4 linked regions of the Homo sapiens genome follow. The protein of the gene in region 2 interacts with the protein of the main gene of each other region in a pairwise test. Each region holds a gene or a part of one and is shown on either strand. Other genes may lie near its edges. The genes, in order: NEBL, GOLGA6A, SYT17 and SPATC1L.

Region 1 (7,025 bases), on a different chromosome or scaffold from region 2:
ACCTGATGGGGGCTATTTTTGGTAGCCTGAGATATCCTAAAGGAAAAACACAATCTACAGAAAAGGAAATTCAGGAAACACTTGTCTAATTGATGAAGCAGATCTGTGGATCCTGAATTCAACCTTTTTTTTTTTTTTTTTTTTTTTTTGAGACAGAGGCTCACTCTGTTGCTCTAGTTGGAGTGCAGTGGCATGATCTTGGTTCGCTGCAGCCTCAACTTCCCAGGCTCAAGCAATCCTCCCACCTCAGCCTCCTGAGTAGCTGGCACCACAGGTGCATGCCAACAAACGGCTAATTTTTGTATTTTTGGTAGAGACCAGCTTTTGCCATGTTGCCCAGGCTTGTCTTCAACTCCTGAGCTCAAGCATTCTGCCCACCTTGGCCTCCTGAAGTACTGGGATTACAGGCCTGAGCCAGAGTGTCCAGCCCCATTATCTCTTTATGTGGCTTTTAACAAGCTATTCAAATATTCTCTACTTAGGGATCATATATCAAATTAGAGAACAGTTTAATATTTACTATAAGAATTTCATCCATGTAAGCTGTCTAAATGAGATTAAGATTTGCTCTATAAATTGCATTGAATGGGACTCAGAAAACAGTACCATGTGACTGACATAAACCTGCGTGTCCTTTTCATTTTCTGCAATTTCAACAGCAACTACTGACAGCACATTAATCAGTTGCTTTCAACTTTCATTTGGTATTTAACACCCATGATGAAAACGTTTTATTAAAACGCTAAGTAGCTTTTTTCCAGTTATATGTTTTATCTACAAAATCATGAAACACTTTAGAAAAACCCTACCTCACTCTGGAGCTGTGTAACTTCTCCTGCAAAAACACTGTCAATTGTGGCTGGCATCCGCTTATAAAGAGAATTAGAAAGGTCAGCTTTAATGGTGCCTTTGTATTTTGCCTGGGGGAAAAAAAAACAGGAAAAAAATAAATAAATAAACTTCCATTTTTTTAAACTGTGATTATAAGTAGAAAAGAAGAAACTTTCTCCCAAAACAGAATTGATTTTAAAATCTGCAGACCATTTTAATTTTAGATACCAGAGCTGACAAACTCCAGGATTCTGAAGAGATAGAAATAAATCCAATTTATCATAGAGAACGCTTTCAATGAGACATGCAAGGACATAATGGCTTTCTATTTAAATGCAAGCACATTTCTAAAAGTAAATCTATTTGTGTATATTGACAGTTTCATGCTGGATGAGTGAGCAAACAATTCGAGTTGTTCCAGAAAATGCAAGTCGTTAGAATCTACTATCTAGAACTTGACAAAGGACAGTGTTCTTTTATTCAGGTCTTCTCAGCCTCCTCCTGCTCCAGGGGGAGAGGGGAGTGAGTGCTTTTTTGTTGTTTATGTGCCTACCCACCTCTAGCCTGCACTGTCTTTAAGCCATCTCAGTCACTACTCTAAAGACAAACACTCTTTCCTCTTGGGAAAACTAAGGTTCAAGGGAACACAATAGATTGCTCACTTCCAATATTTTGCTCTGCAATTAACTCCTTCAGGAAACATAATCAATAATTGAGAACATCAAGTATTTATCTGCACGGGAGAATGGAACATAGCTAAGACAAACAAACTATGTTCTTCCATTATCTGCAGATGAGTTCCTGATGTTCTTCCTGCTCAGAGCTAGATTTCAGTATTGATTTATTGAGCACAGATCCTGTGCTAGCCTTCTGCTACCACACTCTTTGGATTTTGGTACTTAATGAAAGAAAACGTACTGATTTCATTCAAAATTGTTTCGCATTAGCAGAAATAATCCCAAGGACATCCAGTTGATCTTTTTCCAACATAATTTATGAAACACTAGAGGTCAGTCATTTACAACACTATTTCATTTCCGTTTCTTTTCAAACGTATCTCTTCTAAGTGATCTATTCACAGACTACAGTAATGCCTCACCACAGAAATCATCATCGTTAACATTGTGCTTTACAATGCAACATAAACTGTAGTTCTAAATGCTCTCAGAAAGAAACTACATAATTTTTCAGCTGGAAAATGAATATAGCGTATTCCTCAGTCTGTGATTTTATAATAGGTATCACTGTTGAACTGAACTTTATCCTACTCCAAAATAGTTTAAATACATTTAAAATTATTTATCAAAGATATCACATTTTAGAAAACTGGTAAATCTTATTTATTTCCAAAATGATATTCAATCATTTATCTCTGATATATCTATTAGGAAACAAAATAATGGAACTTCTAAAGTGAACTATTGTGCCAGTGCTTTTACTTATTTAATAAAAAGATGCCTTTTCAAGAGGAATCGTATATAAATAAGAAAGATTTAGAGTCAAAATATAGACATATATAATAAAATGTATGAAGCATACATAGTAAAATCTGTCAATCTATATGAGTTAAATGACAGCGCATCACATTAGATAATTATGTAGCTATTACTAACATTCAGTAGTGCTTTTGAAAATATTATTCTTCATCTCTTTAATGCACAGACTTTCATCTATATAATAAGAAAAAGATAAATGCAAGCCAGTTTGCAAGCTTTTGATACCTTACCTCAGAAATAAAAGCACCGATATTTTTTACATGGTTTAGCATAGGACTGTCAGTCACAAATGTACACTTATCCTTGGACTTTTTAAACTCTTCTTTATAACGGATCTAAAAAAGAGAATGATTTACATAAGAAGAGAAAAAGAAAAACAATTCTAATGGCCTTTTTTGAATGATAATTAGGTTGATAAAGTCCATTTACTGAAGTAAATACTCAAGTGTGAAAGGGACCTCAAAACAAGCCAAGTTAAATAAACGGCTATCCAGCACAGGATTGCAAAGATGATGAGGCATAGTGAGGAAAGACCATTCTTTAGATAAGCGAGGGTCCAGTTAAGCATCAACACCAGGCGTGCTGGCTACGGGTGATGGGTCCTGTTTACCCAGCCAGCCCAGTGCAATTAGCAAGCATGTGCCATCTCGCTCCTACAAGTGTCCTGGTGTTTTGTTGCTTTTAAGCCTTGACACATAAGCCTTTGGCCAAACAGAAACACAGCTGCCTACCTCAAGGTAGAAAATAAGTAGTCAGCATGACAGATGTGACCAATTAAGAAGTAGAGGCGAAATTAAATGGGGATCACTATTACCGTTATTACCTAGACATGCTTGATTAGAGGAAGAGGCTTAAATTGTGGCCAACGTGGGCTTCCTGTTACTAATTCCTCCCAATTTATGAGCACCCATAGGCTTCCCAATCCTCCTCCTGAGCGCAGAGAAGAACTGAACCTGCCCAGAAAGCTTGCTATGTGGTGGAGATCATTCCAGAAGGCCTTCTTGCTGGAGATCAGCAAGACAAAGCCCAGTGAGGCTTAGCTAAACCTGCTCATCTCTTCTCTGCAACTCACAAGTCAAATGACTCACTCTCTTCCCCTTTGGGGATAGGCCAGAATTGTTATGCCGGGGGAAGACCCGGGTGGATATTTGAGCCCAAAAGAAGTCAGGAAATGTGGAGAAGGACCTAAAGTATAATCACACTGTCACACTAATTGCTGCACAATCTGGAAACTGGGAAGGCAAAACTATGACTCATTGAGAAGATGCAGGTAATTTGCTAAAAGTTGTATCACTCTGTAATATGCTCGTGTTTATCCTCCCAAGACCATAAATACTTAAACTGAAAAAGTGTTCCTGTTTCAGATGATAAATTATATGTTCTCCCTAATTATAACCCAAAAGTGGAGCTGAATTGTATATACTACCTGGTTCTTAGAGGATGTGAATAATATTGATGTTATACACTAATGGTACATGGAGATTTTCCCATATGCAAGCCTGATTTGACGGGCATTACTTAACCTGTGGTAGAACTAGATACAGATTAAGTGAAGTTATTTCAAAATCCCATATTTCACTGCTGTGACTCTTGGATATCAGATGCCTACCACATTAAACATTTGCTTTATTCATGAAATCAACACGAGAACATATTTATCTTATCTGAGCACTAAATTACTTTTTTTTCTTCTCAGAGATTAGCCATAATTTTAGGTTCCTGCAAATCACCCTCCTCAGCCACTAGTAATTAAACTGTTAATGGCAGTATGATAAATAGTAGGCTATTTTGATCATATGGAGAAAAAAGTATCTCCGTTATATAATTAAGTGTGAGAGAAAATAGCCTATCATTAGGCTTAAGTTTGACTCATTATTTTTATCTTTTGCCACCATCTATTCCCCATCACATTCACATTCTTCACTGCAGTGGTATGTGCTTGTGGCTACAGCCTCCTGATAAAGTCTGACACATGCAGAACGTTCAGGACAGGAGGACTGGATAAGGGTGAGGTATTTACTTCTTCTGTTAGGCAGACAAATAGCTCAGTCTTAATTGTAGACTCTATTTTTTTTTCTTGGGTCTTTATTAAAAAGATACACATATTTGTATATTTTAAATGAAGGTGTATTTAAAATTTAAGATCCTTTACAATTGTACAATTCAAGAGAAATTGTACAATTTGTTAGAAGTCACACACAATCATGTGTGATTTCAAGTGAATTGTGCAATATGAATGACAATAAGCAAAGAATGTTAGATTTTTAAATACATAAGGAATATTTATATAAATATTAGATACATATTAGTAGCCTTCCTACACCAAGATAACAGGAAATGATCATTGAAAGGGAACTATATTGGTCAATGAAACAAATCTTAGGTAAAATAAAAATCACTGAATAGATTGCTATATTTTATTACAGCCATGTCTACATCTTACAATTTCGGGTTGACACCATCTATTGGATAGACTGGCCACTCCCATTATCTCCTATTAAAAGAGCCCAGATGGATTAATGAGAGCAGCCAGGCTCCTGCCCAGCCCCAGAGGACAAGCTGATCTAAACCAGGCATGGTCATGCCATCCAGTGTTTGGCCTGGGGAGCCACACTCTCTGTGACTTTAGTGGAAATCTTCCCAGAAGTGCTTCTAGTGTTTCTGGTACAAAGGGAGAGATGCTGCACAACCCTGTGACATTCTGTCTTCCACATTTTTCTTTCTCAATCAAAGGGAAGGCAGCAGCAATGATGTCATTACCAAGGAATAAGCCACCATACTAATGACGACAGAATAGAAGGAAAGGAGCCTGGGAGACTGATAACACCCATAGTACCCAGCCTGAACTACCTACCTCCGGGCTTTATATGTGGAGGCTGGGGAAACAAAAACCTACTTGTTAAGCCATTGTGTTAGAGTTTTCCTGTTTTTACAGTCATCTGCACTCCTACCGAATACACAACCCAACACCAAAAGACAAAAAGGGCAAAATTGATGACTTTATGATCATTAAGATGTCCCAAACATTGACCTTCTCTTTTGCCCTCACCCACAAATCCCACGTCTCCATTACAATTAGGATGAATTTAGTGCAGGGTCGCTTCCTCCTCCTGGCCAAGTTTGTTTGAATGAGTATGAGATTAGCTAAAGGCTGAAATCGGATGACAGACATGGAGATGTTTGCGGATCTTTCCTTTCACAAGAATTCTTAACTGAAAGTATCTGGAAAGGCTCTTCACAAGTGAAATCATACAAGTTAAATTCAATACACCCTGGAAGGAAAAACAATGGCTCCATCATTATTTAACTGGGCTGGACATAGCTAAGATCACTCTCCCAGGTTTTCTGATACCATCTAAGCTTTCTCTGGAGGAGTAACCACAGAATTTAATGTTTTTGGCATTGAAAGGATTTACCCACAACAACGTTCATTTGCCTGGAAAATATTCTTCCTGCTGCCATGCAGATGAACACCCTAAACAGCCTTGAACTAAACACTGAGAGGCTGCATGCAGATGTGGTCCACCTGCTCTGCAGAAGGCTCTTTCTGCCTAATCTACAAGAAACATACAAAAGATTCCCTTTTGCCCAATCTTTTTTATGACTCCCCATCAGAAGACTACTAGATCCAGGATTCTGAATGCTCAATAGAGAGGATAGGTTTAACTTATTCAAGGGATTGATTAGATAATGTTAGGTTAGACTAACAGGAATAAATATGACAGAGAGAATATCTGTGAAAATATATCTGAGAAAATAATAGTATTATGTGATTAACAGAAAAATAAAAGAGGCTGCCTCAGAAGACCAGCTGTTCTTCAAGACTGGGAAGTGAGTTGTGCAAAGAGGAACCCCATAATGTGGGTAGAGCAAGTGCAAAGCAGAAACTAGGTGGGGGGAGAAAGAGAAAGAAAGAAAAATGCCTTATACTGATGCCCAAAGTGAAGCCACTTGACCTGAAAAACGGACATTTCTCTCTATGGAGAATTCTAAGCAGTGCAGGCTTCCTAGGGCTGATCTCTAGGCCAATCTTGCTTAACATTTCTATAAAATTGTCTGACAAGGGGATGATATAGCAGTGTCTACAGGTCTGCTGACTCCAAGCTGTCTCAGTAAGGGAAACGGCAAACTGAGATGAACTTCAGAAGTTCTCAAAGGGCCAGGCAAGAGGGCAGAAAACTACAGATTAGATCTAGCCCTAGTGTGGTTAAAATAATTCAAACTATTATTTAAAGATGATGGGTCCTAAGCTATCAGCTACAGGTCAGAAATTAGGAATGAAATGGCTCTGATGGTCTACAGATTATCAAGCTGATCTAACAGCTTTCTGCAGCTCCCAAGTCTAAGAAACTCTTCATAGCATCATAAAGGGTGCTAGAAGCTAAGCAAAACATCATCCTGCTCTACACGTGATCTAGACCGTCCACATCTGTACCACTCTGCACAGTTCTGATTATTACATATTGGTTATTAAGGATATATGAAAGCTGGAAGAAGTCCAAAGAGTAACAATTAGGCTGCACCATGAAGAGAAGTCCATGAAACCATCCCTCTCATCTACAGAAACGAAGCAGGGCCAGCCCGGTGGCTCACACCTGTAATCCCAGCACTCTGGGAGAACGATGCAGGAGAATCACTTAAAGCCAAGAGCTTGAGACCAGCCTGGGCAACATAGTGAGACTCCATCTCTACGAAAAA
Region 2 (7,027 bases):
CAGAGAGGGGTCTTGGCACTGCCTCACCTTCCACTTGTCCAATGGGGGAGCACTACCCCATTGGAGTGGTTAAGGTTGGACACCCGCACCTTCAGAATGTCCTGAATCTACAGGAGGTGACAAGGGAAAAACAAGGGCAGGGGGTGAAAGACAGAAGTGGCTTAGAGAGAAGCAAGAAAGTCAGGGTAGGAGGAAGATGTGGGTTCAGGAAAAGGAAACGCTGAAGAAGAGCAGAGGAGATTAAAACCATGGCCTGTGCCATTCTTCCAAATGGCCACCTGCTGCCTTGCCAGGGGCAGGAAAAAATAGATGGAAAAGTCCCCCGAGTGACGCAGTCACAGAGTGGAGTCAGCTGACCAATGCAGATCTTAATACGCTCACTGGACCCCTCTCCTCAGGCCCAGGACATGGGCGATGAATCTGGTAGAGCTCCAGACCTCCACCTCCATTAAAAAAAAACAGACTCCTGAGTAAGAGTTCACTTGAACTAAGGGGACTTCAGCTAAAAAACAAGTTTGAAAGACACTGATCTTATCCAGTATCATCTTACAGAGGAGGAAACTGAGGCCCAGCAGAAGAAGTGATTTTTCTGTGGTCACCCAGCAAGCTGGTGGCAAGTTAGACCTTCTCTTGCTCCTAGTGCCTTGGGCTCTCCTCACCACACCCTGGGCCCCCTTCAGTGACTCCTAGAGGGACAGCCTGATGGCAAGTGGCTGTACTCATTAGCCCAGCTTCCCCTTGCGAGTGGGGATCAGGAAAATCAAACAGCAATGACCATTTCCTGGGTATCCTGGGTGTTTACAGCAGGCCACGTACTGGGGGTTAACATGAAAACAACAACAATAAGGAATCTCATTTAAACTTCACAAATGGAAGTCAAACAATACTACCCCTATTTTACAGATGTGAAAAGAGAGGCCCAAAGAGCTCAAGCAACTTGCCATAAATCAGATCGCTAGCAGATGAAGAAGCAGGATTCAAACCCAGAATTCTTAACCAGTACCCAGCAATCTCAACAATTACCCTCTACTGCCCCTTGGGCCCCCTGTCCCCAGGAGCCTGGCCAGCCAAGACTCACATCCCCAGGTGAGTGGCAACCACCGGAAGTGGTTGTCTCAGGGCTACTGTCAGTTTTTTTCTTTTTTGTCTTTGCTCCTGCTGGAATACCAGGGCTCTTCCTTTGCTGATATTCTTTTAGCTGTGGGAAAGAAGAGCAGTAATACTCATGAGAACTACCAGCCCTTACAGCCACACCCTCCTTACAGTTTTTGCAAAATACTCTTATACACCATCTGATTTAATGCCACCAACAACTGTACAAGGTGTTGTCACAATCACTTAAGTGACTGAGAGGGATGGATATTATGGCTAAAAAAAAAAGTGTGGGGGGGCAATAATGGAACTTAAACTCAGTCTTCTGACTCCAAGCTCTGGGGTTTTGCCATGAATCAGCAGCTGCCGGGGACCAAAACCAGACGCAGAGGTAGAAAAGTAAACATTACATAGGCATGAACTACACGCTGTGTGGTTTAGAGTCATACATCCTCAAATGCCTGTTAGTGTGAAGAAGTGCACCAGTATCTCTCAAACTTTTATATCAATGTGTCCTCATGGCAGAAGGCAGCTTTTTTGTTAAATCTGGGAATTTATCAGAAAGAGGACAACCCAAGTCTCATTTCAGAGAGAAGTCTGGTATACTCTTAGAAACCTATGTGAGGGTCACCCCTAAGTACATTAATGTTTTTTCTCTCTCAAGAGAATCAAGGGAAACTGATGCTTCAGAAAGATCTCCCACATTTATCCTGTGGCACTCAATGTACCCTAAGTTGAGATGATATGAGGAAGATTCAAGCTGTCAAGTTCAGTTTCCCAAGACCTATTCCACAGAAGATGAGCAAATCTCACTTCAGAGACCACTGACTGAAGGGCAGTCTGGTCCCAGAACCGTGGAGAATTAGAATATGAGGTGGAGAACTCGGAAAAAAATGTTAAAGTCTCTCTGGAGAGTAGAAGCCTGGGAGAAAACCAAACCAAACCCATTCTCCCATTACCACCCAGAGATACTGTCAACGTTTTGAGCTCACAGGGGAAGTGTAGGCTTTTCACACTGTCGATGTCTATGTGAAGGGAGTAAGGCAGCCTGAAACCTCTTGCTCCTAGGTCCCATGGTCCCCATTTCCCTTCTAGCTGGAAATTTGTGCTGTGACCAGAGGAACCAGAAATGGGGTGAGAATGCTTAGGGGACTGGGTTATAAGATCAAAGGCCGGTCTTGCAGCAGTAATGACAGTTCCTAGGAGGACTGTGACATCACTACATTCCACTCCTCCTGGGGGTGGGGGAAACCTCATCAGTGCAATGGCTGAGTTGCCGATCCACGATGGGGGAGGGGGGACGTGGGGCTGGGACCCAGGTCCTTGGAGATGCCAGTCCAGAGAGCCCAGGGAGGTCGGGCTTGGGTCAGCAGGAGGGGAGAGCAGAGTCTGCTCAGGGAACCCCAGGAGTCACCAGCCCAAAGTCACCCCGGGATGACTGGCGATGCTGGGGGGTTGGGGCTGGGGGACCCAGGTCCTTGGAGAGGTGAGCCCAAAGAACCCAGGGAGGTTGGGCTTGGGGTGGCAGGACGTGAGGGCTGAATATGGAGCAGGTATCCCCAGTAGTCATCCGCCCAAAGTCACCGCAGGGTGATTGGCGAGGGCAGAGGCTGGGCTGCTTGCTGAAGGGGCGGGGCTGACTGACAAGACGTTGGTGGGGGGAGTCCAGAGGCGCCGGGGTAGGGGGGCCCAGCCCGGTGTGCCTCAGGAGTGGTATGGACTCTGGGAGTGGTCTTGTCATCAGAGGGGATCTCTGGCTAGGTTGGGGGGCCATGACCTTTTTCTTGGCTTTTTACCTTTTTCTTGGCTGCTGCCAATTTATTCTGTCGAGATTCTTCTAACATCATGGGGTGGGGAGGGAGGTAGGGTTGGGGCCACATCAGCGAACACCTCCAGTCACCTACAAGGCTGCTGTGTGACTGAGCCAGAGGAGGCGTAACCAGGGCCACACTAGAATGCAGAATAGGGGTGTGGCCTTAATGCTCCAATCCCATTGGTCAATGAGAAAGATGAAAGGGAAAGGAGGCGTGGCCAGGCAGCAGTGTGCCCAGAGGAACCTGTGACATCACAAGGAAAGCTGCCCATGCGACTGCTGTCCCTGCCCACTTGGGGAGAGGGGCGGGGCCTGCCTACTCCGGGAGAGGGGAGGGCTGGTTTTTGCTTTAAAATGTTAAAAATAAACTTTAAAAAAATATGTATTTATACTTTATATATATGTGTGTCAGTGTGTGTGTGTCTACATGTTCCTCCAGAGCTGTCTTCATTATCCAGCTTCTATGCATGGTCTATGATTTTGGCCTACATTTTTCATCTTCAGAGGGAGTATAAGAATTACCAGTATTACCCCAGTTAAGACACAAATCCTATAAAAATGGAAAATCCATAGCATGTTTGATGATTAATGAATGAAGTGGACTATATTATCCAACATCCCAATAAGGTAAAATAATCACAATGATTTCTCGGCTTTGGAAAAAACATTTCTCTTATTCTCCTACATTATTAAGATTTTTTAAAAAACAAGAAACATGTCTAATATCTTTAAAAACACAAAGCTTTTGGGCCGGGTGTGGTGGCTCACACCTGTAATCCCAGCACTTTGGGAGGCCTAGGTGGGTGGATCACCTTAGGTCAGGAGTTCAAGACCAGCCTGGCCAACATGGTGAAACCCTGTCTCTACTCGAAATACAAAAACTAGCCAGGTGTGGTGGTGGGTACCCGTAATCCCAGCTACTGGGGAGGCTGAGGCAGGAGAATCACTTGAACCCGGGAGGCGGAAGTTGCAGTGAGCCAAGGTCACGCCACTGCACTCCAGCCTGGGTGACAGACTGAGACTCCATCTCAAAAAAATAAAATAAAATAGTCAAAAATAAATAAAAACACAAAGCTTTCCATTTAATAAGCACTCAAAGCTCTTTACTGGTTTAAAGCAAATACAAGGCCTATTTTTCTAGAATCACCTGGCCTCTCTAAGCCTTGCAAATGAAACTGAATTTCTCACTTGATACTTGGCTATGACTTGCAATCATGAAAACCAAGAATTGTGTTATGTCACTGTGTATTGATTGTTACCTGAATTCCACACTAGGCTGGGATCAAGGGTTGAATCTTTCATGATTTGCTCCATAACCTGTGAGCGTCTTTTCCTACACCAAACTAAGCTTTGTTCTAGAGTTCTACAATTTACAGTTAGTAGACAAGAGTGGTTCTCAAAAATGTAGTCTCTGGACTAGCAGCAGCAGCAGAACCTGAGAACCTTTTATAAGTGCAAATTCTCAGGCCCCACCCTGGACATGGTGAATCAGAAACTCTGGAGTAGGGCTCAGCAATCTGTGCTGCAGTCATCCCTCCAGGTGTTCAAGAACCTCTGGCATACAGCAGGCAGAAAAATGTGTTTCCTTCTGTAGGTCCAAAGCCAGGGATACCATATGTTCTGTCTTGATATGAAACAATGGCATGCAATTAAAAGACATAAATCTCCTTCCTGCTCCCACCCTCCATCCAATGTGTTTTATTTTTATGAGTTAAATAAGAAAACAAACGGCAATCAGAGATTCAGCCTAAAAAGTATGTTTACAAGTGTCAGTTCTCATCCAGCCTGATCTCACACAATACCATTTACACCCTCTTCCCTCTCAGGTTTTTTAAAAAGTGTCTTCACAATGTAAGTCTCGGGCACACTAGCAGTTCTATAATAAAACACCAAGTAGATCAGAATGTCCAAACTTACTAGAGAAGAAAAGTGGAATCACTGGCTGTATTTTCAAGTTGCATTCAACAGGAAATGTAAGTTTTTCATTCTTTTCACCTTCACACTTCAATAGCATTAAATCAGAATACTCCATTCTTCCAAAGCCTCTAGCCAGGCAAAGTTTTACTGTATTACTTCTTGCTTTCAATAGATATAAAGCAGAGTCCTGGTAGGCACATTTTGTATGCCTGCAAAGATGCAGAAGTAAACAGTTCCATCTATTCAATATTAAAACAAAAGTCCTGCAAACCTCGGATGGTGAGTGTAATACTTCAGCACTAGCACCAAAGCCTCAAATATAAACAGATACCAATATCACCACTAGCAAACAAAATGAGCCCTCGGCCAGGAGCAGTAGTTCACACCTGTAATCCCAACACTTTGGCAAGCCAAGGTGGGAGGATCACTTTAAGTCAGGAGTTCAAGACCAGCCTGGGCAGCATAGTGAATTCACATCTCTACAAAAAATCTTAAAAATTAGCTGGGGGTGGTGGCACACACCTGTAGTCCTAGCTACTTGGAAGGCTGATGTATGAAAACTGCTTCAGCTCAGGAGTACGACGCTGTGGTAGCTATGATCATGCCACTGCACTCCAGCCTGGGTGACAGAGCAAGATCTAGATAATTACAGTCTGTCCTGCTCCTGTTTATGTTAAAATGCTTTCAATCAGCAGGATAAAAATTAAGTGAAATGTGACTTGGGAGCTTGGCCAGAAAATAGGCAATGGAGAAACAGGCACTTCCCACAAGAATAAAAATGGCCAATAAGCACATAAAAATGATTCAAGGCCAGGGCCGTGGCTCACGCCTGTAATCCCAGCACTTTAGGAGGCCGAGGTGGGTGGATCACCTGAGGTCAAGAGTTTGAGACGGGCCTGACCAACATGGTGAAATCCCATCTCTACTAAAAAATACAAAAATTAGCCAGGCATGGCGGTGGGCACCTGTAATCCCAGCTACTCGGGAAGCTGAGGCAGGAGAATCGCTTGAACCCAGGAGGCAGAGGTTGCAGTTATCCGAGATTGCACTGTTGCACACCAGCCTGAGCCATAGAGCAAGACTCCATCTCAAAAAAAAAAAAAAGTTTCAAAAGCACTAGAAACCAAAGAAATACAATGAAAACAATGAGATTTTCTCCTTAAATATCAGCAAAGAGGACAAATGGAAACGGGATACTGGAGCTCTGCCCCTGTTGGGAGTATAAACTGAACCAATTTTTCTGCAGGATAATTTGAAAATTTCTATTAAAAATCTTAAAACTATTTTATGTTATTTTTCTCCAGAAATTCTACTTCTATGACTTCAGCCCCAAAATGCTTGCTTGCGTCCATTAAAATATATATATAAGAAAATTTACTTCTGGGGTGGCAATGATTAACTTAATACACATCGAGCTTTTAAAAAGATGATGCCAAGGATATATTTACTGCCATAGAAATATGCCCAAAACATAGTGACAAAAGACTATATATTACGATTCTACTTTTTAAAATGTTCATATGCATAAAAAAATATAAAAAGCAACAAACCAGAATGCTTTCAGTGGCAAAATTAAAGACTTTTCTTCATATTTTGTCTTCCAAATTATTACAAAAAGAATGCAATTTTCTTTATAATCAGGGAGAAGTATTATTTTCATTTATTTACATATAAATTTCTTTTCTTTTCCTTATTTCTTCTAATGTATGTATCACATGTACCCTAAGAGCTTGAATCCCTACTTCTTGAGGTAAATCAGACCATTTCTGTCTCTATCAACTTGCCTTTTTTGGACATTTCAAATCAACAGAATTATACAATATGTGGTCACATGTCTGGCTTTTTACTTAGCTAAGGTTTTTGAGGTTGGTCCATGACATATAACAGGTTTTGGTAGTTTGTTCCTTTCATTACTGAGTAGAAGTCCATTGATGGATATATACCACATTTTGTCAGCAGAGAACATTTAAACTTTGCTTTCAACTTCCCGTGGTCTAAATGAAACCGCTGGAACACAGGACTTACAGTGAAACCTGCTGTGCATGTCAAAAGAACTACTTATCAGAACCAGCTTTGTCATCAGGAGCCTGAACTGCTGCAGAAATTTTTATCATTTTGCAACTTCCTTTTTACAAGCAGCTTTTGTGCTACTACACATCAGGACTTTTGAAGCATCTGATACATCCATCTAATAAGTATGAGCAT
Region 3 (7,883 bases), on a different chromosome or scaffold from region 2:
TCCTCCTGCAGCACACCTGCATCTCTCTAGCCTTCCTTGCCTTCCATGACCTCATCACCTCTCACTCTGGTACTGCCATTGGCTCACTGCCATTATCTTGGTTCAGACTCGCATTACTTCTCACCTAGATTGTTGCAACCATCTCCTCACTGGCCTCCCTGCCTCCAGGCTTGTCTGCTCCATGTCCAAAGACAGCCAGGTGGACAGACAGACAGACATGCACACAGCCCTGCCAAAATCTTTCTGATCACAATCCTCTCTGCTTTTCCATGGGGTAACTTAGGAGGCCGCCTGACATGTGGCATCTGCTACCTGTGGAGCCACACCTGGCACCCACCTCTCCCTAGTTCCCATTCTCACCTCTAAGCTAATGCAGAAGCTACCTTCAGGGCTTTCTTACTACTTTCTGTGTCATGAAACCCTGGGCAGTCCATCAAAGCCTATAGAGCCCTCTTGGAATAATGTTTTTAGAATCGTAGAATAGAATACATAGATTGATAATGAAATTATAATGAACACTGATATACAGTTATCAAAATATTTAAACAAATTTAAATATGGTCATGTCTTTGCTTCTTTGTTAACACATTAAATAGACAATTTAGAGGTGGGCCTAATAACTATTTGTAATTTTCAAGCAGTAAAGAACATAAATGAAATTTCAAGTCATTTGCAACAACTGCAAGTGTAATGAGATAGACTACACATGATCTTTGTTGGTGACAAAGTCCTGAGTAAGTGCTAAGCTTGTTTTGGTTGGTTGCCTGCAGTCATAATGGAAGGAAACACTAAATTTCAGAAGGAGGTTGGTGACAATGGTGATGCAACTTTTTTTCTTTCTAAGTTCATGGACCTTCCAAATAAGCCCCACTCCCCATCTTTGGTTCTTTGGGACTCAGCTTAATGTCAGCCCCTCTGGGAAACCTTCTGTGATCCTTCATCACACGAGGTTGGGGCCCCTCACCTGTAACCCCACAGTCCCCTGAGCCTCCCTTTATCACACCACAGGTCACATATAATTCCATGCATTTGTCTACCTCCCTGATTGGGGCCTTCTTCATTGAGATCTGTAAAGGTGCCAGCTTTGCAGGCACAGCCTTGATCTGAGTCCAAGTTACATTGAAAAGCTGGACTTCATGTCCCCGTGAAAGGCAGGAGAGGCTTGCAAAGCAGTGGGATCCTGGAACTCATTGACACTCCCCTGATGAAGGACTTAAACTGATTTCTCGTCCATTCTTTCATCTGACGATGGTGCAGCCATGATGAGTTGAGACTTTATTGCTAACCAGACCTGCATTTTTGTCCTGTCCCTGTCTCTTGTCACCTGTTTACCTTGGGCAACTCACTTTGCTTCTCGTCTCAGGATTTCAGTTTCCTCACCCGTAAACTGGGGACCATGACAGTACCCACCTTGTAAGGCTCCAGTAGGGATGAAACAAAAACAAATGTGAAGGGCTTAACACTCAATCATAATAACCAGTTGTCTGAGAGTTGAAAGTGTCCATGTTAGCTGTTGTTGCAACCCATTTGCTCATTCAACAAGCATTTATCAAACACCTATTTTGCCAGGTGCTTTGCATACATTTAAAGCATTTCATAATACCAGAGGCAGGTTCTATTATCCGCATTTTAAATAACCTCTTCTTTTGCTCGAGAGGTGCTTAGTATTCTTGGACAGTTTCAGGTCATAAGGGATTAAGGTACCAAAAAATTCTGGGGACGGGGTCATCCCCCTCCTCCAAGATCAGGCATTATTAGGCAACATGGTGCAGGGGCTAGGGAAAGGATTCAGGTTTAGGTTTGAATCCCAGCTCCTGGAAGCCACACACACCCTGCAGGGCAGACACATTTGACGGCAATAATTGAACTTAGCTTACCCTGCGAACGACCCTATGGTCTAAGAAGAATGTGTATTCACAGTTCAGAGCTAAGGAATCCGGGAGTGGCCAACCTGGAGATTCACTCCTTATCTATGAAGGATGTCTGGGTCCCCTGCCTATCCCTTGGAATGCAGGCTGTACAGGCAATTGAGGCCCTTGGTTTTGGGTTAAAGAGCCAAAACCCTTGGTTAAAGGGCCAAAAGGAAGTTGCTTAGATAGAAGGTGCTAAGCGAAAATGCTATATAAACTGCATGCTTTTTATATAAACATGTTTTTTATATAAACAATCGAGGCCCTTTGTTTTGGGTTAAAGGGCCAAAAGGAAGTTGCTAGGTGGAGGGTGCTAAGTGAAAATGCTACATAAACTGCATGCTTTTATATAAACAGTAGAGGTTCTCCTGTCCAGCCAGCTGCCACTGGATTGTCCCTGTATGTAAGTTCCCTCAATAAACCCTGTGTCTCGTTCACTGTCTCTAGGTCTCTTTTTTGGCCTCCTGGACATGGTACTATTCCTAAAGGAGTTAACAGTGGCCTGGCATGACACGCCTTGGGCAAATGACTTCATCTCTTTTTTTTTTTTTCGAGATGGGGTCTTACTCTGTCATGTAGGCTAGAGTGCAGTGGTGTGATCTCAGCTCACTATAGCCTCAATCTCCTGGGCTCAAGCGATTCTCCAGCCTCAGTCTCCCAAGTAGCTGGGACTACAGGTGTGAGCCACCAATGCCGGGCTAATTTTTGTATTTTGTAAAGAAACTTTTTGTAGGCTGGTCTTGAACTCCTGGCCTCAAGTGATCCACCCACTTTGGCCTCCCAAAGTGCTGGGATTACAGGCATGAGCCACCATGCCTGGCCAACTTCACCTCTTAATGCCTCTTTTTTTCTCACCTAAAGAGTGGGATAGTACTTGTGCCTACCTCATGGTAATCAGAGAATTAAAAGATCAAAATTTGTGTAAAGGGCTGAAAACAGTGCCTGGTACACAGACCTCAAAAAGGGTTAACTTTTTTTTTTTGAGATGGTATCTCATTCTGTCACCCAGGCTGGAGTGCAGTGGCACGATCTCAGCTCACTGCAACCTCCGCCTCCCAGGTTCAAGTGATTCTCCTAGCCTCAGCCTCCTGAGTAGTTGGGATTACAGGCACCTGCCACCATGCCCGGCTATTTTTTGTATTTTTAGTAGAGACGGAGTTTCGCCATGTTGGCCAGGCTGATCTCGAACTCCTGACCTCAGGTGAAAAAGGGTTAACTATTTTTACTTATGGGAACACCTAGCAAATTCCTCGAACTCCCTCAAGTGCCCCCAAGGAGCACCCGTTCCAATAGGCATCCTCCTCTGTGAGGCTCACTCCCCACCTGGCATGCCTTGCCATCAGTGCTGGAGAAAGATTGTGGATAAATACCACAAAGTGGTTAGGAGTGGCCACTTTGGGTTCACTGCTGGACTTGTGGGTTCAAATGTCAGTGCCCTGGGCTACCAGCTGTCAGGCCTTCATAGAGGCTTTACCTGTCTGGGCTGCAGTCCCTCATAAATTGGAGATAATCATAGCACCTCCCTCAGGAAGCAGAGTGAATAAGGCAACAAAAACAATTACTGAGTGCCTACTCTGGCTGGACAGGTGCTACCTAATAGGAGTGATCAAGGTACTGCAGGTTGAAATGAAATAACGCTTGTGAAGTGTTGAGGCGTGTATGCCTGCAGAATCATAAGCACTCAATATGCGTTACGTGCTATATGCTACAAACTAAATATATCATACTAAAAAATGTATAGGTCTGCTAGATTTTTAGACAAAAAATATATGCATCTGAATATCCATCTTTTGTTACTCCCATATTCATTTTCTCATTTATTCCCACAAATCAGCCCTGGAGGATAGGCAGGGTGGAGATTTTCTCCTGTTTTTACTGAGGAAAAAGAGGCACTGGGAGGTTAAAATTAAAATGCTGATAAGCTGGTGTCCGGCAACAGGAGATGACTGGGCATATTAAAAAGAAAACCGGCCCGGCGCAGTGGCTCACGCCCCTAATCCCAGCACTTTGGGAGGCCGAGGCAGGCAGATCACTTGAGGCCAGGAGTTCGAGACCAGCCTGGCCCACATGGTGAAACCCTTTCTCTACCAAAAATACAAAAATTAGTGGGCGTGGTGGCATGTGCCTGTAGTCCCAGCTACTCGGGAGGCTGAGACACGAGAATCCCTTGAACCTGGGAGGCGGAGGTTTCAGTGAGCCAAGATTACCCCAGTGCACTCCAGCCTGGGTGACAGAGTGACACCCTGTGTCAAAAATAAAATAAAATAAAATAAAATAAAATAAAATAAAATAAAATAAAATAAAATAAAATAAAATAAGAAATCCAGCGGAGGGCAATGTTCCACCTCGAATCTCTGAGTGGAGAGCCAGAGGCCTTGGGCTGGGAGGTTTGATGGAGGCCTCTGGGTCCAGGGCGCCCCAGCCACGAGGACAGGCAGGAGGGCGGCGGTGGACACGCCCCGGGGCGCACGCTCGCTGGCGGCCGCCTGCCCGTGGGCAGAGGAGCGCACGAGGCCGGGCACGACGCTGGGTGGCGCTGCCGGGCCGCCCCGCGCTAGACCTGTTGCGTCCAGGGCGCAACTCCGGCAGGTTTAGGGTAAAGGGGCGCTCCGCTCTCTCCGCGCGCCCCCTGCAGCCCTGGACGCAGCACCTCCGTTTGGGACGCCCTACGCCCACCTTAACTTGAGGCTCCCATCCACGCAGCCTCTGCAAGCCTCACCGCAACCGTGCTAGGCGCGTCGGGTGGGGCGGGAATAAAGTTTTTCCAACCCAGTTTGGGGAGAGGGCTGGATGGGAAGGACCCTCCCTGCTGCAGACTTCATGGCAGGCTGCACTGTGTCCCCTCGGCTCCACGGCTGCCCCGGGGGCGCTGCTTTCGGTAGGTGCCAGCCCCCGTGCCAGCAGGATGGGCTGACCTGTGTACCGCCCCCTCCCACCCCCTTCCCCATTCCCATCCCCTCCCCCGCCTCCTGCGCGCTCCGGCCCCGGCGTCTCCGGCCCCGCCTGCGCTGGGGTCGCTGCAGTCCCCGCAGCTGCCCCGGGCTGCTTGCCCAGGCGCCCCGGCCTTATTCCAGCCTGGGGAGCGCCTCGGTGGGGAGCACGGGACAGCGAGGGAGGCCGAGGCGGGGGCCCTGGGCGCCCGATATCTCCGAACCGGGGAGGCGGCCCCGATTCCGAGAGCCGGAACGCAGGGAAAGGCAAGGACGGGGCGGCCGGCGGAGGGGCGGGCGCCGCTCATCAGCCACGCCAGTCACGTCTGGGGCCACCGGCTGCCTTTTTCTTCCTTTCCCCCTTTGCTTTCTTCCCCCTCCGCTGTTGGCGAGGGCAAAGTGGCCGTGGCGGCGCCATGCCCGGGCCGGAGTGAGTGCGCGCGGGCGAAAATGGCGTACATCCAGGTAGGGCTGAGGCTGGGGGCAAGGTCCGGGGTGCGGGTAGGGGGTGCCGCGCCCCCTCCGGCTGGGAGCGCGCGGAAGGGAGGGCCCACGGCTAGGCTCCCACAAACTTGCTTCGAGAAAAAGGGTGCCCGTGCGCGGGCAACCTGTGCAGCAACAGGGGTGCGCCCCGGGAGGAGAGACTGGGGACCCCCAAACCCCGGGATGGAGGGTCCTATGTGTACTCTGCAACGCGCGCCCTTGCCTCTTGGGGAGGGAATGGGGGGTGGGGCGGACTTTTCTTCTCCCCTGCCCCCTCCCTCTCCTTGGCACCCCACCCCAGGGGAGGGGCCGTGGGGAGGGCGGCCCGGGGCGCGCCAGCCACCCGGCCCGCCAGCTGCCGTTGCCGTGGTGACGGCTCCGGCTAATTGGCCGGCGGAGCGAGCCTGAGGCAGCTGTTCCGACCAGGAGGGACAAGGACGTCGTCTCTCCTGGGCACTGGGTGCTGAGGGGTGGGGGACACCCAGAGGCCAGAGGCGCGCTGGTGAAGAGAAGGGAGCCTGTTACTTTACTCCGCTGCATTGGGGTCTGGGAGATGTGGACCCTCTTCACCTTGAAGAAACGTCCCCCAAGAATCCTTGGGCTGAAATAATTCTGAAATAATTTCTAAGCAGCCTTTTTTGGGGGGAGGGGGCGGAGGGGTGGGCCGGGCTTCTTGGTGAAAAGACCTTTCTCCTCTGCAAGAAGGGAAGTGACCGCAGGTCAGCGCCAAGGTCAAGCAGGCAGACCCGCAGTGAGACCCGTTGAGCTGCTTGCTTCTGGCGCTGGCGCCTCTGAGCTGGGCAGAGAAGCTTACAGACTCCCACGTCCAGGGTGCATCTTGGCTCACATCTTGTCCCCTCAGCCACAGCTGGGGGTGCTGCTGGTCCTCCCATTCCCCTCTGGGTCACATATCCCCTCATCGTGTCCTCAGACGCTTCAGCCTGCCGGGAACTCTGTGCTGTGTCACCTGGCGGAGCCTCTTCCATTCATCTCCTGCCTTAGATTCCCTGAATTGGCTTCCCTTTCGTGGAATCGCCAGTTTCTCTTCAAGTTCAATGAAGGTCACATTACTGTCCACCCACTGTGTGCTGAATGTTGTCCAGGGGCTATTGAGTAGTCGCCCAACAAACACTTGGGCGACCGCCTACTAAGTGCTGGCACTGGGGATACAGTGATGAAAACAGCACAGTTCCTGCCCCTCTGGGTGCGCAATTTAGTGAGAAATGAACATGATTACCGGCTCCTGGAGTTCTTAATGGCCGCCTTCAGCACAGAGAAATTAAGTGACTTGCCCAAGGCCACATAGCTGCTTAGGGGTCAAGGTGGGATCTCAAGAGGGGACTGTGGTAGATATGTTAAGCATCTCATATGGCGATGACCCAGTGATGTTGGTTTTCCTTCTAGAACAAGGTGTTAAACTTTGTTGTCCTGTAAAGTGCCAGATACTATTTTTTTTCTCTTGGAGGCTCACATGGTCTCTGTCACAACTATTCCACTCTGACTATAGCACCAAAACTGCTATGGACAGTAGTAAATGAGTGGGCGTGGCTGTGTTCCAATAAAACTTTATTTGCAGGCACCAAAATTTGAATTTTGTATACTTTGCACGAGTCAAGAGGCATTCATCTTTTTTTTTTTTCAACCTTTTAAAAACTCACAAATTATTCTTAGCTCAAGGGCTGTAGCAAAACAGGCTGCGGGGCTGGTTTTGATCTGCGAGCCTTAGTTTGCCAACCTCTGTTTAGAATGCATGGGTTGTCTTTCTTCCTCTTTCTTTCTGGTGTGAATTGGTTCTCTTCCATCGGTGTCAAACACGTGAGCCCAGGAGACCCAATGCCAGAAAGACTCAGCATGCCTGGGAATGTCAGGGCACCCTCTTTCATCTTCTTTGCTTTCTCTCTGCTCCTTGACACTCATCTTGCACCTGGGCTTTGAGAAAGTTGGGGAGGCTGTTTTTCAGCAGGGCCATGAGGTGACCTTGTCTCTGTTCACTTTGGTTTCATAAATGGCCTCTTTTGACCACCACATGTCTAGGAAATGCTTCCCTGTATTCAGAAAATGGTCATAGATTATTATGAAAAAGTATCACTTTATCCTAACATTCTAAAGCACTTTTTCATGCAAGCCCTATGAGGGTATAATATTTTGCTGTTTTGTGCCCTGCTGTACCTGCCGGGACAATACCCAGTGCCTACTGGGTTCCACTAGGTCTTGACAATCACCTAATTCTCATCACAGAAAGGGTGCATTTTATTTTTCAGCTGGACCGCACGCAAGTATTTGCATAGTCAGTGTCCTGTCCCACCTCAACAGCACGCCTTTGAGGTATAGAGTAGCCTTTCCACTAAAGAAGAGGTAACCGAGGCTCAGAGAGGCCCCCTGTCTTGCCCAAGTCACATGATCAGTCGATGGTGAGACTAGGACTCTAGTACTTCCTGGCTCAGCTTGTTGCGTGGCCCCTCAGCACCTTTGGGTCTTGTTCTGTGTATGGTTTGAGTTTTGGCTTTAGAGAGTTTGTGATAAGTGCCTTTGACTATTTCCCAAGCTGTTGCTATTCCCT
Region 4 (6,825 bases), on a different chromosome or scaffold from region 2:
CAACACTCCCACGGTCTCTGGGGCTCCCCGGCGCTCGCCCACCCCCGGCACCCCCATGGTCTCCGGGGCTCCCCTGTGCTCGCCCACCCCCAGCACCCCCACGGTCTCGGGGCTCCCCGGCGCTCTCCCGCCTGCGTTGCCACTGCTCAGCCCTAAGGTCCGGGTTCACTGTAACGCGGCTGTTGCCCTTTCGAATTCTTCGCTTTTGAACAAGGGGCTGCGTTTCCATTTTGCCGGCAGGGGTGCGCAACCATCCGCCAGAACCAAGTCCTTGCCCCAGCTCGGCATTCGGGGAAACCCAAACTGGGACAGGACTCGCCGTCCCGGGCGGGAAAGCGGGTGGGCGTGGAGGCCCGGGGGAGGGGAAGGGGGGAGGGGGAAGAGGGGGCCCCTGCCGGCTGCGGCTCCTTCCTGGCTTCCCTCCTTGAGCACCGAGCGGCGCTTCCTGCAGGCGGAGCAGCGGCCGAGGCGCCCTCCACGCCCTCAAAGAGCCAGAGGTAAAGGCAGACATGCAAACGGATGATTTTAATGAGGGGTGAGAAGCACTCCGCAGGTGCGGGCAGCGGCGGGCTGCGGTCGGGGCCCAGCACCGGTGGGAGCGGGGCCTTCTCTGGCCTCGCGCGCGGGGGACGCGGCCCTTTCCCCTCCGGGGGGACGCGCAGGAGGCACCGCGGCCCCGGGTTGGAACAAACGCGTTTACTGCAGGCAAGGCGGCGGGCGCGGGGCGGCTCACCAGGCGAAGAGGGGCTTGCCGTCCTCCTTGGAGAGCTCGCACAGGCAGTTGAGCAGCAGCAGCGAGTCGCCCAGGAACTTGGGGGGCACCACGTCGATGACCAGCTTGCGCAGCGCGGCCGGGCTGCTGTGCAGGGGGTTGGCGCGCAGGTCGGGCCGCTGCTTCAGGATTCCGTAGGTGTTGATGAGGAACTCGCTGAACGCCGGGTGCACGTCGCGGCTGTAGCCCAGCTTCTCCAGGCGCGCGCTCAGGGCCAGGTAGCGCTGCGTCAGCTCGCGCAGCTTCCTCTCGTCCACGGAGCCGTCCAGAGACTTGGTGGAGGTCTGCGGGCGCAGCGCATGGATGGGGGTGGGGGGCTCGGGGCCCTCGGACGGGGACTTCCAGGCCCAGGGCCGATCCCTGCCCCGCCCGCCTGGGTCCCCGGGGTCCCCTCCTGCGGACAGTGCCCGGCCAGGAGCCAAGATCTGGGGGCCGCACAGGGACGGACCGAGCGCCCCGCACCCTCCTGGCCGCGCCCTCCCCACGGGGCGCACCTGCTCGATCTTCTCGGGGATGTTGGCCACCGTGAAGCCGTAGAGCCGCGTCACGCCCGGGAACACGTAGGCCAGGATGCGGCGGTCCAGCTGGAAGGCGATCTCGCCCACCACGCGCGCGTCCTTCTCGGCGCCCGCGAAGCTCTGGATCTCTGGGGGAGGGAAGGCCGGGGACAAGGTCAGGGGAGCGCGAGGATCCACTGCCCTCGAGGGTGCCCTCGGCCACGTGGGGGGCGGCTCCTCCACCCCCCTCCTCCCACCTGCCGCCACCCCCCACTGTCTGGCAAATAGAATCTGAAAGAAAAGGAGCTTCTTAAAGTGCCAAAGGGCAAGCCAGCCTTCCCTTCCCCCTGTCCTCGGCTCCCTTCTGTCCCTTTGCGATGAGGTAAACCTTTTAATCTCGGGGGTGGGGACTGGTCCCCTGTCACGCGGGAGTCTGCCCCAGCGTCGGCCCCTGCGAGGACAGAGGAACCCGGCCCTGGAGGTCTGAGTTGGGACGGGTCCCCTCCAGTGAGGACGCCCGTGGAACAGGGCCGGTCGGCTTGGCTGGGAGGAAGGGGGAGAGTTCTTCTGTCTTGGCAACCTCTGGGCATCAAAGGCTGCTTTAATGTTTATTCAATAAAACTGCTTCATTCTTTCCTACCTCTGAGAAAAGGACCGCTGGGTTGGCAGGACTTTTTTTTTTTTCTTAGACAGAGTCTCACTCTGTCATCCAGGCTGGAGTGCAGTGGCGCCATCTCCACTCACCGCAACCTCCGCCTCCCCGGCTCAAGCGATTCTCCTGCCTCAGCCTCCAGAGTAGTGGGACTACAGCCGCGTGCCACCACACCCAGCCAAGTTTTTGTATTTTTAGTAGAGCTGGGGTTTCACCCTGTTGGCCAGGCTGGTCTCGAACTGCTGACCTCAGGTGATCCGCCCACCTCAGCCTCCCATAGTGCTGGGATTACAGGCGTGAGCCACCGCACCTGGCCCAGGACATTCTACTTTAATTACTTCCTCAACATTACTTAGGAGACTGCAATGCTCCCACAAAACCTGCTTCCGAACCCCCCTCCCCAGGACAGCCTCTGATGGCATCCGAGTCCGTAACAGCACATGACCTTGTCCATCTTTTTCCTGGAGGACGGGAAACAGTATCTCATTTGCATTTCACTAACGACTAGTGATTCGAGCATCTTTTCACGTGCTTATTGGCCATTTATATACTGTATCTTCTTTGGAGAAATATCTATTCAGGTCCTGTAGTGATTTTTCATTGGATTGTTTGTCTTCTTACTGTTGAATTGTCAGAGTTCTTAAATATTCTGCATACTAGTCCCATTTCAAACGCACAATTTACAAATGTTTTCTCCCATTCTCCGGGTTGGCTTTTCATTTTTTTGATACTGTCCTTTGAAGCACAAAAGTTTGTTTTTTTGTTTTGTTTTACTTTTGATGAAGTCCAATTTGTCTGTTTCTCTCTTTTGCTCATGCTTTTGATGTGATCTCTAAGAATCCATTGCCAAATCCAAGGTCACGAAGATTTACCCCTATGTCTTTTCTACAAGTTTTCTGGCCTCAGCTCTTTGAGACCTCTTAGGTCTTTGATCCATTTTGAGTTAATTTGTGTATGTGGTGTGGAGTAAGGCCCAGCCTCATTCCTTGGCATGTGGATACCTCTTTGTTCCAGCACCACGCGTTAGACAGTATTCAGTCCCTCCTGAATTGTCTTGGCACTCTTGTTGAAAACCATCTATGTACAGTTTTATTTCTGACCTTCCCATTCCATTGCATTGATCTGTATGTCCATCGTTATGGCAGTACCACAGTCTTGTTAACTGTAAGTTTTATAGTCAATTTTGAAACTGGGAAGTATGAGTCCCTCAATGTTCTCCTTTTTCAAGATCGTTTTACTTATTCTGGTTCCTTACACTTCTATATGAATTTCAGTTTCTGCTTGTCAATTTCTGTAAAGAAGCCACTAGGATTCTGATTGGGATTGCATGAATCTGCAGATCCAATGTAATCCATATCAAAATTATTGATTTTTGAACAATATAAAGTCTTCTAATCTGTGAACACAAGGTGTTTTTCTGTTTATTTATTTATTGTTTGTTTGTTTGTTTTTTTGAAGAAAGGGTCTCGCTCTGTCACCCAAGCTGGAGTGCAGTGGCACGATCTCAGCTCACTGCAACCTCTACCTTCTGGGCTTGAGTGATCCTCCCACCTCAGCCTCCTGAATAGCTGGAACTACAGGCATGCACCACCACGACCAGCTAACTTGGGTGGTGGGGGGTTGGTAGAGATGGGGTTTCGCCCTGTTGCTGAGGCTGGTCTTGAACTCCTGGGCTCAAGAGATCTGCCCATCTCAGCCTTCCAAAATGTTGGGATTACAGGTGTGAGCCACTGTGCCTGGTCATTTATGTCTTCTTTCATTCCTTTCAGTGATGTTTGTAGTTTTCAGTGTATTTCTTTCCCAATCACTTTTCAAGACTGCAGAAGAGGTATGTCAACACACTGCACAGAAGTGTGTTAGGGCCAATGAGGGGTGTGGAAGAGCAGGTGTAATCTCCTCCTTCTGTATCAATGTATTTCTCTCATCAAGAATCAAGCTCTTGGCCAGGTGCGGTGGCTCATGCCTGTAATCCCAGCACTTTGGGAAGCCGAGGTGGGTGGATCACAAGGTCAGGAGTTCGAGACCAGCTTGGCAAACATGGTGAAACCCCATCTCTACTAAAAATACAAAAATTAGCCAGGCATGGTGGCGGGTGCCTGTAATCCCAGCTACTGAGGAGGCTGAGGCAGGAGAATGGCTTGAACCCGGGAGGTGGATGTTGCAGTGAGCCGAGATCGCACCACTGCACTCCAGCCTGGGCGACAGAGCGAGACTCCATCTCAAGAAAAAAAAAAAAAAAAAGAATCAAGCTCTTTCTCCCATCCCCCCACCAAGGCAAAAATGAGGTAGAAGAAACATCCTATAGAAGAGAAATGATTCTAGTATAGGTTCTAGAAATGATTTCTAGTCCAACCTGGGCTCTGTAAGATCCAGCCAAAAACCTGTTCTTCAAAGGAAAAAGGCCATACATTGATAAACCTCTAGCCAGACTTAGGGGAAAAAAGAAAGAAGACAAAAATTACCACTAGCAGAAATTAGAGATGCCACTACCACAGATTCTACAGACATAAAAAGGATAATAAGGAAGTATTAGGAATGACTTTATGCCAATAAATTTGACAACCTAGATGAAATTGACCAATTCCTTAAAAGACACAAACTACCAAAGTTCACTCAAGAAGAAATAGATACTCTGAATAGCCTTATATCTGATAACCTTACAGGTCACATTTGACAGTTTAAAAGTAAACAGACTTCCAAACTGGCCTGCTTGGGAAGGTCTTATGATTAATGGTCCCTGAGTAAAGAATCTTATCATGATTTCCTCAGATTGCTGATGTGCTGATTAATGGACTGAAAAGATGCTGATTTATTCCTGAATCATAAAGGTTTACTGACTGTCTTGCACAGAGATGTGTTGACCTGTATGTTGTCATCTGTAGCCAATGCTTGTAACCTCTGTGTTGTACCCTCCAAAGAAAAGGACAACATGAGTATGAGGAGTCCTTTCTCTCCTCCTAGCCTCTCCTGTAGAAGCCTTCTGACTTAGATATGAGTATGAGTCCTTTCCCTCCTCTTAGCCTCTCCTATAGAAACCTTCTGACTAGAAAAGGACAACATGAGTATGAGGAGTCCTTTCCCTCCTCCTAGCCTCTCCTATAGAAGCCTTCTGACTTAGACATGAGTATGAGGAGTCCTTTCCCTCCTCCTAGCCTCTCCTATAGAAACCTTCTGACTTAGATTCCAGAACACTCTCAACTTTGTTGGTGTGTTCCTCTGGGTTGATCCTCACATTTGGCTTCCAATAAACCTTTATCGAATTATTTGTCTCAACAGCCTTAATTTCAGTTGACATTATCAATAAAATGGAATTTGTAGGGGGAAAATGTTCCCACAGAGACCATTCAAGGCTCGGGTAGTTTCAGCGGTGAATTCTACCACTTAAGGAATAAATAACACCAATTCAACACAAACTCTTCTAGATAAAGAGGAGGGAAGACCACAAAACAATGAGAAAACAAATAACAAAATGGCAGGAGTAAATCTTTATCAATAATAACTTTGAATGTAAATAGGCAGGTGCAGTAGCTCATGCCTGTAATCCCAGTACTTTGGGAGGCTGAGGTGGGCGGATCACTTGAGGTCAGGAGTTTGAGACCAGCCTGGTCAATGTGGCAAAACCCCATCTCTACTAAAAATACAAAGATTAGCTGGGCGTGGTGGCACGCACCTATAATCCCAGCTACTCGGGTGGCTGAGGCATGAGAATCACTTGAACCCAGGAGGCGGAGGTTGCAGTGAGCCAAGATTGCACCACTGCACTCCAGCCTGGGCATCAAAGTGAGACCCTGTCTCCAAAAAAAAAAATTACAGCACAGTCAAATCGATGAATGATAGTATGTGAGTTTGGTCAAAAACAACCAAGAAACTTTGAATGTAAATAGACTAAACTCTCCAATCAAAAGACGGAGTGGCTGAATGGATAAAAAAAAAACAAGACCCAACCATCTGCTGCCTACAAGAAACACACGTCGCCTATAAAGACTCACACAGACTGAAAATAAAGGGATAGAAAAGGATATTCCATGCAAATGAGAACCAAAAAAGAGCAGTAGCAGCCATAGTTATATCAAAGTGGATTTCAAGACAAAAACTATAACAAGAGACAAAGAAGGTCATTATATAATGATAAAGGGGTCAATTCAGCAAGAGGATATAACAGTTATAAATATATATGCACCCAACACTGGAGCACCCAGATATGTAAAGCAAATATTACTAGAGCTAAATCGAGAGACAGACCCCAGTACAATAGTAACTGGAGACTTCAATACGCATTTTCACCCTTGGACAGATCTTTAAGACAGAAAATCAAAGAAATATCAGACTTAATCTATACTATAGACCAAATGAACATGATAGATATTTACAGAACATTTCATCCAACAGGTGCAGAATACACCTGCTTCTCATTAGCACATGGATCATTCTCAAGGATAGACCATATGCTAGGCTGCAAAACAAGTCTTTAAAAATCAAAAAAATTGAAATTATATCAAGTATCTTCTCCGACCATAATGGAATAAAATGAAATCAATAACAAAAGGAATTTTGGAAATTATACCAACACATAGAAATTAAACAATACGCTCCTGGATGGCCAGTGCATCAGTGAAGAAATTAAGAAGGAAATTTTAAAAATGTCTTGAAACAAATGATAATGGAAACACAACACACCAAAACCTACTATGTACTAGATTCAGCAAAAGCCATACTAAGAGCTATAGCTGTAAGTGCTAAGAGTTTATAGTTATGAGTGCCTATATCAAAAAAGTAGAAAAACTTCAAATAAGCTAATGATTCATCTTACAGAGCTAGAAATGCAAGAGCAAACCAAATCCAAAATTAGAAGAAAAATAATTAAGATCAGAGAAGAAATAAATGAAATTTAAATGAAGAAAACA

Evidence for each region.
Region 1: the proteins of GOLGA6A (region 2) and NEBL interact in binary tests that used the Homo sapiens proteins (3 or more experiments, as listed by UniProt).
Region 3: the proteins of GOLGA6A (region 2) and SYT17 interact in binary tests that used the Homo sapiens proteins (3 or more experiments, as listed by UniProt).
Region 4: the proteins of GOLGA6A (region 2) and SPATC1L interact in binary tests that used the Homo sapiens proteins (3 or more experiments, as listed by UniProt).

Annotation. Positions count from the first base shown.
Region 1 is NC_000010.11:20,887,288-20,894,312, forward strand, and holds part of NEBL (nebulette), read right to left. Parts: intron 2,663-7,025; coding exon 2,558-2,662; intron 921-2,557; coding exon 810-920; intron 1-809. UniProt on the Homo sapiens protein: Binds to actin and plays an important role in the assembly of the Z-disk. May functionally link sarcomeric actin to the desmin intermediate filaments in the heart muscle sarcomeres.
Region 2 is NC_000015.10:74,079,538-74,086,564, forward strand, and holds the start of GOLGA6A (golgin subfamily A member 6A), read right to left. Parts: upstream 3,014-7,027; 5' UTR 2,973-3,013; coding exon 2,889-2,972; intron 1,199-2,888; coding exon 1,079-1,198; intron 1-1,078.
Region 3 is NC_000016.10:19,163,357-19,171,239, forward strand, and holds the start of SYT17 (synaptotagmin-17), read left to right. Parts: upstream 1-4,883; 5' UTR 4,884-5,290; coding exon 5,291-5,305; intron 5,306-7,883. UniProt on the Homo sapiens protein: Plays a role in dendrite formation by melanocytes.
Region 4 is NC_000021.9:46,160,650-46,167,474, forward strand, and holds the end of SPATC1L (speriolin-like protein), read right to left. Parts: intron 1,942-6,825; exon of another isoform or gene 1,860-1,941; coding exon of another isoform or gene 1,658-1,859; intron 1,419-1,657; coding exon 1,267-1,418; intron 1,057-1,266; coding exon 730-1,056; 3' UTR 511-729; downstream 1-510.